Linked DNA regions of Homo sapiens. The protein of the gene in region 2 interacts with the protein of the main gene of each other region in a pairwise test. Each region holds a gene or a part of one and is shown on either strand. Other genes may lie near its edges.

Region 1 (5,400 bases), on a different chromosome or scaffold from region 2:
AAAAAATATGGATGGTAGGTTGAATGACATTGGCTCACAATTCATTGTTGCTCCATTCATTTATTTCTCATATTTTTCTCTCTACTTTTCATTTTGAATACTTTTTATTTGTATGTATTAAAGTTCACTATATTTTTTCTTCTGCAGTAGCTAATCTGCTGTTAAAACTATCCAGTGCATTTGCCATTTCATATGCTATATTTTGTCTCTAGAATTTCAATCAATGTGGATCTTTTAAAAAAATCTATTTTGTTCTAATCTTGCTTGTGCTTTCTTCTACCTTATTGAACATATGGATTGCAGAAATAATAGCTGTTTTTTAATTCTTCTCTACTAATTTCACACCCTTTTTTATTCTGTTTTTCTTATTGCTTTCTCACAGGAATATGGGTTGTATATTTTCCTATTTCTTTGCATGCTTGGTAATTCTTCGTTTAAAATCAGATATTATAAATCTTGTTTTTGGGTACTGTCTGTTTTTGTAGTATTTGAATATGTTTGCCTTTGTTTGGGGATATATTTAAGTTACTAGGAATTGGTTTGGTTCTTTTGAAGTTTGCTTTTGTCAGGCAAATCTAGAATTGCCTTTATTCTAGATCTAATTTGCTCCATTACTCAGGCAATACCCTTGTGAGGACTTTTTTAAATGCCTCTTGAAATATGATGTTTTCCAATCTGGCTAGTGGGAACATAACTATTCCTGGTCCTCCGTGAGTTCTGAGGATTGATTTGCCTGTTTCTTTATTGTGGTTCTTTCTCTGTCCTCATCAGTTTCATCACACACTTGAGCTGATCATTATTCAGAAACTTGAAGGGTCCCTCAGCAGATTTCTGAAGCTCTCTCCATATGCAGTTTTCTCCTTCACTGTGCAATGTTCTCTCCAGTACACTGTTCCTCAAATTGTAGGCACCCTTGTACTTTCTGAACTCTGAACTATGTCTTCTCAACACAGAGAGACTCCTAGCCTTTTTGGGCTCCTTTCACCTGAGCTATTGTCTGGAAACTTTCCCAAGGCAGTAAGTTGGGACATTCATAAGGCTCATCTTGTCTCCCTTCTCTCAAGAATCATGGTCCTGTGCTGCCTTTTGTCAAAGGTCTAAAATTCATTATTTTCTATTTTTTTCTGTTTTTGTTTGTTTGTTTGTTTGTGTTTAGATATTTAAGGTAAAAGAGGAAATCCTGTTACTGTTACTTCATCATTGCTACAAGCAGAAATTCAGGTGACCTTTTGGAGTGGTGGAGTGGGAATGCTTTAGGAGTCTGGATACCTCCATCCTATTAAGCTCTTAAGCTTCATTACTTGCTAGTCTTGTGACTTTAGCAGAGATAATTGACCTCTGGAACCTCAGTTCCTTCATCTGGAAAATGGGACTATAAAACCTGTCCTATTCTTCTTCAAATGATGTGTCATCTTCATTAAAATACTTAATAAACTGTAATGTGCTACGCCAAGCCTATTTTTGTTACTAGTTAACATATCATCAACTGGCCATCAGTACTGCGAATAACTCTTTTAAAGTACATCAATCCACTCCTACACAATTTATATATGAACCTCAAATGAAGGATATGTACATTATGATATTATGATGGCAAAAAAAAGACTGATCCTGAGATCCCTGTCTATGCAATAAGAGTTTAATCTTTCAAAATGTTTAAGAATGTGAAAGTTAAGCCCAACAAATAGCATCGTGTCCACATATGCATGGAAGCCACTCCAGAATTTTTTAGTACAAATTTAATATTACAAAAAGCTTTTTTTTTTTTTTTTCTGAGATGGAGCTTCGCTCTTGTTGCCCAGGCTGAAGTGCAATGGCGCGATTTCGGCTCACTGCAGCCTCCACCTCCTGGATTCAAGCAATTCTCCTGCCTCAGCCTCCGAGTAGCTAAGATTACAGGCACTGGCCACCATGCCCGGCTAATTTTTGTATTTTAGTAGAGATGGGGATTCACCTCTCTATTTACTTTATTTTAAAATCATCTCACCAAGTTTTTAGATATTGTAAAAAATAAATTCCAGCATCTTCAAAGCATAAAGTCTAGTGACAGACATCTGTTTATTCTAATACTATGAGAGTATATTATCTGTTTATTAAGCTAGAATTTACTGAAATGTATTGTACACATCTCTTATCTGTCTTTTTAGAGATAAAACTAACTTATATTGCTTAGGTGAAAATAGAAACAAAAGGAGATTTTAATAAAAACTTATCATATGATTTTCTCAGGGCACAAAGAAATTGTTCACTGACCTCGCTTTAAAACACACTTAAAATTATGTAATTAATATTCAGTTTTGCCAGCTACATAAAACATATTCATAGTGACATGAACACAAATTGCAAGAAAATTTTATGTACACATACTCCACATAAATATATGAAAATATAAAGGGACATATATGTCTATAGCTACATCCCTAATGACTAAATTCTAAAGAAAGCTTCTACCAAATAAATGCATTAGCAAGTAAATATACTGGATCTCAGAATGTTTAATCAATGATAAAAATGTATTAGCCTTTAATGACACTTGCTTTATTCACATGGTAATGTGTTCAAATAATATACACCTAAAACTATAAATACCTAATCATACCATCAGATATCAGAAAGAATAAGTACCTAGTATTTGATAGCACAACAGGGTGACTATAGTCAAAATAATTTAATTATATATTTTAAAATAACTAAAAAAGTATAACTGAATTGTTTGTAACACAAAGGATAAACGCTTAAGGGAATGGATAGCCCATTTTCCATGATGTGATTATTATGCACTGCATGCTTATATCAAAATATCTCATGTACCCCATAAATGTGTACACCTACTATGTACCCACAAAATTTAAGAATAAAAAAATTAAAAATACTAAAAAAAAGTAAAAAGATCAATTTCAAATGGATAAACAGCTGAATGACAAAAACATAAATAGGGACTCAACTGAATGACTATTTCCTTTGGCTCTGTTTTTATGTAATCCCACATGCATCCATCCATACAAAATATATGACAGTGATATATGGCACTAATGACCAGTGATATACAGCGTCTCCGAATGAGCTAAGTAGTACCTTGATTCATTCATATTCGTTGAGTAAATTTTGTTTCAATAAATTGTGTTTCTTTGTACATTTCTAGCCCTAAAAAATGTGCAGGTAAATCACTTCTATGTTTCACTGGAGAGTGTTTGTACTGCCACAACCATTGAAAGCTAACATTTCACAATCTTGCAAATCACAGTCTTGTTAATACTTTTAAAATGTAGGTTGTATTTTAACTTACTAATGAGGGAAGTACATACACAAAGAGATAGACTATTTAATTATCTTACAACTCTCATTCCTGATTTTACATCAACCTGCACAAATTAAGGGGAAAAAGATTTAGTCACACATTAGAGGTTAGGGGGATATCCCTCAAAGTACACCATCAAGTGGTAAGTAGGTAACATTATATAAACATACACATATATAGTGTAGAAACAACATACAAACACACATGTATTTAGACAATGAAAATGTGAAAGCATAAATTTATCCCCATTGAGAAAAGGAAACTCTTGTACAACTTTGGTGGGGATTTAAATTAGTACAGTCATTATGGAAAACAGTATAGAGGTCTCTAAAAAATTAAAAATAGAACTCCTACCACATATGATTCAGCAATCCCACTTCTCAATATATAGCCAAAGGAAATAAAATCAGTATCTTGAAGATATATCTGCACTCCCATGTTCACTCACTGCAGTATTATTCACAATAGCCAAGATACGGAGTCAACCTAAGTGTCTATCAACAGATGAATGGATAAAGAAAATGTGGCATATATACAAAATGGAATACCATTCAGCATTGACAAAGAAAAAATAATCTTGTAATTTGCAACTACATAGGGGAACCTCGAGGACTTTATATTAAGTGAAATAAGCCAGGCACAGAAAGACAAATACTGCGCGATCTCACATATGTGGAATCTAAAAAAAAAAAAAGTCAAATTCATAGAAGCAGAGAGTAGAATGGTAGTTATCAAGGCTGGAGAACAGTGAGGGATTGGGTAGATGTTGATCAAGGAATACAAAATTTTAGTTAGACAGGAAGAATAAGTTCAAGAGATCTATTGTATAACATGGTGACTACAGTTAATAACAATGTATTGGATGCTTGAAAATTGCTAAGAGAGTGGATTTTACATGTTTTCACCACAAAATAAGTATGTGAGGTAACTGATTTGTTATTAGCTTGATTTAGCTGTTCCACAATGTGTACATATATCCAATCACCATGTTACACACTATAAACATATATATTTTTGCCAATCAAATAATGAAGGATTATCCCCACAAATACTTTAAAGAGTAAGAAAATGCATAATGTAATCATGCTCCAGACTTCTTGTCAAAAAAATAAAAATAAAGAAATTGCATAATGACTTAAAAGTCTCATAGAGTAGAACCCCAAATCTGATAGCCACAGGTAAAACTCCTCCTTTATTCTTCAAATGAAAAAAATAAAACAAAAACAAAAGATACTTAAGGCAGAATATCTCAAACAGAGATCCAAAGATAGATTTTGTCAGTGTAGGAAAAATTTTGCTTTTGTTTTTGGGGGTAGCCTCTAAAAGTTGGAAAAGCCAAGGAAACAAAACCTTCTCTAGAGGTGCCAAAAAGGAAAGTACTGCTGACATATTTATTTTAACCCAAAAAGACCCATTCAGACTTGTGCCTTCTGGAACCATAAGATAATAAATTTGGGTTGTTCTAGGGCAATAATTTTGTGGTGATATATTATGGCAGCAAAGAGACAACATACCATTCCCCTTGAGGATGTTGGTGACAGTGAACCCAATACAACTATATTCTTCTGTAACACTCTGTTGAAAAGTCAAGTAATTAGGATAAATATCATTTCAATGGTAAAGCCATTGCTGTCACCAATGTGAGTGGATATACTCAGAGGCTTAGCGATTTTACCTATGACATTGGTGTAGTTTTTTTCTCTTAATGATACAATGCATACTTCAGAATGGAACAAAGCTGATCTGTATTTGTCATACAATGTATAATGGAGAATGCTTAGATCGCATATTTCTTTACAAATGCGAAAACAGACAAAAGAAAATTCAAGTTTTTGTTTCTATGACCACCAGCTCTTAAAAGTCTCTGTTGTACAGGAAGTAAGATTTCACTTTACTTCAGTTCTTCTCAGACATTAATATACATATTAGTAAGTAACTGGGAGGTCTTGTTAAAATGCGGATTCTGATTCAGTATATCTAGTGTGGGGCCAGGAGATTTTGCAGTTTCTAAGCATCTCCCAGGTGGTGTTCATGCTACCACTCTATGGAACACACTTTGAATAGCAAGGGAGGGATTCAACAATCCCTACCTGAGGCTCCAT
Region 2 (5,400 bases):
GAGTGTGAGGAGAAATCCCTACACAGATTCAGGCAACTATTTTTATGTCACCCAAGTAGCCATAAAGGATAGAATTGTATGTAAAAGGTATGAAAGCATGTGCAAAGGACTAAGGGCAATTTTTTTTTCCTTCCTGCTGCAAGCTTGTTAACAGCCATATCTTCAGAGATGGGCCAACATGTGATAATGAAGAAAAGGGATTATACAGCACTTTGTGAAAGCCCTTCCTAGATGCAGAAAAGTATAAAGAGAAACAGCACAGTGACTGGTACTTTCTTTTTTTTTTGAGACAGAGTTTTGCTCTGTCACCCAGGCTGGAGTGCAGTGGCACGATCTTGGCTTACTGCAACCTCTGTCTCCCGGTTTCAAGCGATTCTCGTGCCTCAGCCTCCCAAGTAGCTGATATTACAGGCACACGCCACCTTGCCCAGCTAATTTTTGTATTTTTAGTAGAGGCAGAGTTTCACCATGTTGGCCAGGCTGGTCTCGAACTCCTGACCTCAAGTGATCAACCCACCTCGGCCTCCCAAAGTGCTAGGATTACAGGCGTGAGCCAGTGCGACCAGCCATCAGTGACTGGTACTTTCTAAGATGTGGAGGGGTTTGCAAAAATAAGATCCTGAAATTCATTTATATTCCTCACATTTGGGATCCCACGAGGTTTCTAGCAGGATGACTGACCCAGGCTGTCTGGGTCTGTCTGTGGCCCAGGGTAGCTTGGGATTCATTTTGCAATAGCAGTGTGGCTCTGTGACTGGTGATCCCTGAGTAGTGGGGACATTCTAACTGAAAGCTGAGACTTTGGTGAGCAAGGATCAAAGCAGAGAGGCAGAACCTGTACTCATGGCCCACTTCAGTCCTGCAACTGCCCTGCAGAGAGAAGTTGGGTGTTCAAGGAATTAAGTTGAGGGATGCCCTGGGACCTTGGATAACATCATTTGCTAAGTGTAAAATGCGATTTTTTTCCACATACTCATCTGGCCTCTGAGTAGTAAGTAAACAGAATACTCTGTGCTTGGGGACAGGGTTAATTTTATCTGACTCTTGGTAGTTCCTTGCAGTTGGAGTTTGAAGGTTAAGCTTCTCTCCTTGATGTGACACCTTGTGGGAGACTTGGTGAGAAAGAGGGCTGCAGGGATGCTGCAGATGGAGCAGAGAATGGTAAACACAGTTTTGCAGCTTGGTGCAGGATGGACCTAGGCTGTAGCGGGGCAGGTTTGGAAATTTGCAGCAGGAAACTGGAGCAGGTATGGGGCCTGTAGTGGCTCTCATCTGCTCTGGAGTTCTGTAGCTCTAATGGGGTCTTTCCAGGGATCTCTACTCTTTTCTTTCTTCCCTTGCCCCACAAACTTTTCTAAATCCAACCTGTTGTAGAATTAGTCAAGTGATTTGTTGAAATCAGTTAAGGCAGACATGGAGAGTTGTCCCTCTTCCTCTGTTGAGATGCTAAGCTATTTGTAGCAACTTTCTTAAAAGTTCTATAAATAACTTAGCATTTCCTAACAGAGAATAGGGATTTCTATCCACAAAGGCAAATAATATCCTGGTGAAAGAGGACGAAACAAGACCAACTGGTTTTAAATAGTGTTTAAATTGCCTGGTGCTGGCACCATTGACTGGGATCACTTGTAACATGTCTTTTATTTGGTTGTTAGCTTTCCACCAGCATGCTATCCCAGTTGCAAAGTGTACTCCATCGATGTCCCAGGGGCAGGTGAAGCTTTTGCAGTCTGTGGAATGGTCAGATGTTTGAGGCAGCTCAAATGCCGTGTTTGTGGGCTAAATGCAGACTTCCTTCCACTGATGGTTTCTATTTGGTCTATTTCTCTAGCTACCAAAATTTCTTATCCATTTTTTTTTTTTTTTTTTTTTTTAGACAAAGTCTCACTCTGTCACCCAGGCTGGAGTGCAGTGGCGCAATCTTGGCTCCCTGCAACCTCTGCCTCTGTTGTCCAGGCGATTCTCCTGCCTCAGCCTCTCAAATAGCAAATAGCTGGGATTACAGGCACCTGCCACCACACCTGGCTAATTTTTTGTATCTTTAGTAGAGATGGGGTTTCACCATGTTGGCCAGGCTGGTCTCAAACTCCTGACCTCAAGTAATCCACCCACTTCGGCCTCCCAAAGTGCAGAGATTACAGGTGTGAGCCACCGTGCCCGGCCAAAACAGGATTTTTTTTAAAAAGCACTGATTACTAAAGGGAACTCTTATTGTATTAAATCCTCAGAGTGAGATAATAACTGAATCTCTTCCGCAACTCCTTCTCAGTTGAATGGTGGGGGAAATTTAATGTGGTCCTGAGAGGCCCCAAATCATTTACCATCCCAGCTCTACCTTTGATGTGGCAGTCTCTCCTGGGATCATTTTCTGGGTGCAGATGCTCACAGGGCGCAGTTTGACTCCTTCTGCAGTTCTCTGTGCAGAACTAAGTTAAGCCTAAGTTTGGCCTTTGTCACTTGCAATGATAAGAGACCAGCTTTGGTCTATGGGGTGCAGGCTGGTGTCAGCACAGACTAGAGGCTTTGGGTTTGTTTAGAACAAACTGTAATTAACATAGGGCACAATATAGTCTTTCAGGAATTAGCTGTCTAAGAGGCTGGAGTGGAGCAGAGCCTCTGCTTCCAGGAACAATGCCCATTGGGGATGCTTGGGATGGTCTTTCAACAGAGGCCAATTGATTGACTGATGTACCTCTTGCCTTGAAGCTTGGCATGTATACAGGCACCACAGAAGAGAGACAATCCCTGCCAATCTCATTTGGGATCGGTAATTTGAAACAGGAGAAAGCAAAATGGGTAACCATCCAGTCTGTTTTATTTCTAAAAGAGGCCCAGTCTTTCAGGGGTAGGAGAAGGGAGCCTCTTGGGCTTGCAGAGTTGGGCAGCCTTAGCTGTCCATCCCTTAGTCTCATTCTGGAGAGATGTGGCCTCTGTTTAGTTACCTTTCACCCAGGTTCCTCCAGGATGGGTCCTTTAGGTTTACAAAGTAGAGCGCCTTAGCTTGACATTGTCTGATTTCCAGGCTTACACTAACACCCCTGTGTTTTGTTTTTTGCAGGTTGGGTGGCCCAGACCCCTTGGACTATGTTAGCATGTACAGGAATGTGGGGAGCCCTTCTGCTAACATCCCCGAGCACTGGCACTACATCAGCTTCGGCCTGAGTGATCTCTATGGTGACAACAGAGTCCATGAGTGAGTATATGCCACCTGTTCTTTATCCAGAGCCTTATTCCTGAGGTCTTCCTGAGCAGGGGTGACAATGTCATAGTGCTGTGAGCATGGTACTTCTCCGTGGAACCTCTGCATTTCTGCCCTCTGACTATATCTACTCATGCCAAGGTGGTCCTCGTTAACACCTGATTCCTGCTTATCTAGTGCAGGAAAGTCTTGATGAGCAGGATTCCCAAATCAGGTTTTTCTAAGCTTGCCCTGGAGTTTGGGCTCATAGGACAGGAAGGTAGCATGGTTATGACTCAGAACTTGGGCTGATGCCTCTGTGTCTACTTCCTTTTATTCCCCTAGCTTATTATGAAACATTTTAAACATAAAGCAAAGTTGGAAGGATTTTATAGTGAACACTCATATACCCACAACCCAGATTCTACTGTTAACTTTATACTTGCTTTATCACAAATCTGTTCATCTCTTATCCTTTATCTATCTTACCTACTTCCTTTTAACCTGTATTTATTTATTTTTTTATCTTAGTCTGCTTCCGTTTGTTGCCCTATATGCTTTTTTTTGGAGATAGGGTCTCACTCTGTCATCCAGGCTAGAGTGCAGTGGTATGATCATGGTTCACTGCAGCCTCGACCTCCCTAGGCTCAGGTGATCCTCCAACCTCAGCCTCCCGAGTAGCTGGGACGACAGGCAAGCACCACCATGCCCAGCTAATTTTTGTAATTTTTTTGTAGAGACAGGGTTTCACCATGTTGCCCAGGCTGGTCTCAAACTCCTGGGCTTAAGCAGTTCTTCCACCTCAGCTTCCCAAAGTGTCGGGATTATGGGTGTGAGCCACTGTGCCCAACTCAGAGTTCATACTGTTAATGACTGTATTCTCTTGCCTTTTGAGCAATTATATCATGTACTCCAATAAGCTACCAACTATTTTTTTTAGAAACAGAGTCTCGCTTTGTTGCCCAGGCTGGAGTGCAGTGGGGTGATCTTGGCTCACTGCAAGCTCCACCTGCCGGGTTCACGCCATTCTCCTGTCTCAGCCTCCTGAGTACCTGGGACTATAGGCACCCACCACCACGCCCAGCTAATTTTTGTATTTTTAGTAGAGACGGGGTTTCACCATGTTAGCCAGGATGGTCTTGATCTCCTGACCTCGTGATCTGCCTGCCTCGGCCTCCCAAAGTGCTGGGATTACAGGCGTGACGACTGTGCCCGGCCTGCTACCATCTATATTTTAAAAAGATTTTTTTTGGCTGGGCACAGTGGCTCATGCCTGTAATCCCAGCACTTTGTGGGGCTGAGGCAGGTGGCTCACTTGAGGTCAGGAGTTCGAGACCAGCCCGGCCAACATGGTGAAACCTTGTCTCTACTAAAAATACAAAAAATTAGCCAGGCATGGTAGCATGTGCCTGTACTCCCAACTACCCCGGAGGCTGAGGCACGAGAATCACTTGAACCTGGGAGGCAGAGGTTGCAGTGAGCTGAGATCGTGCCACTGTGCTCCAGCCTGGGCAACAGAGTGAAACTGTGTCTTAAAAAAATAATAATTAGGCTGGGTGTGGTGGCTCACGCCTATAATCCCAGCACTTTGGGAGGTCGAGGCAGGCGGATCACCTGAGGTTGGGAGTTTGAGACAAGCCTGACCAACATGGAGAAACCCTGTCTCTACTAAAAATAATAAAATTAGCCGGGCGTGGTGGCACATGCCTGTAATCCCAGCTACTAGGGAGGCTGAGGCAGGATAATTGCTTGAACCTGGGAGGAGTAGGTTGCAGTGAGCCAAGATTGTGCCATTGTACTCCAGCCTGGGCAACAAGAGTGAAACTCCATCTCAAAAAAAAAAAAAAAAGTAATAATAATAATAATAATAATGAAAATAAACAAAGTTTTTTTTATTTATATTCTTTTGATGGAGAGTTTCTTTTCTTCAATTTAAATGTAATCTTTCTATGTTTGTATTCTGTCAATTAAAAATAAAATAAATAGTCTTCCCTCAACCTCATTAGCATGGTTAATCAAGAGCTGATTTTATTTGTATTGTCATATCCTCTTCTGGTTTTTGCCTTTTGTACTTTTTTGCCCCTTATACCATGTCTTTTCTATCTTGGTGGTGGCTGCTTAACCTGGGCAGGTTGAAAGAGTAGCAGGACTCGTCCTGTCCTGCCTTTGCATAGCGACCAATTCTGGAGATGATGATGGTATCATAAAGAAGATGATGATAG

Evidence for each region. The genes of interacting proteins can lie anywhere in the genome.
Region 1: the proteins of SUFU (region 2) and HDX interact in binary tests that used the Homo sapiens proteins (3 or more experiments, as listed by UniProt).

Annotation. Positions count from the first base shown.
Region 1 is NC_000023.11:84,491,156-84,496,555, forward strand, and holds part of HDX (highly divergent homeobox), read right to left. Parts: intron 1-5,400.
Region 2 is NC_000010.11:102,506,111-102,511,510, forward strand, and holds part of SUFU (suppressor of fused homolog), read left to right. Parts: intron 1-2,168; exon of another isoform or gene 2,169-2,796; intron 2,797-3,058; coding exon 3,059-3,193; intron 3,194-5,400. UniProt on the Homo sapiens protein: Negative regulator in the hedgehog/smoothened signaling pathway. Down-regulates GLI1-mediated transactivation of target genes. Down-regulates GLI2-mediated transactivation of target genes. Part of a corepressor complex that acts on DNA-bound GLI1.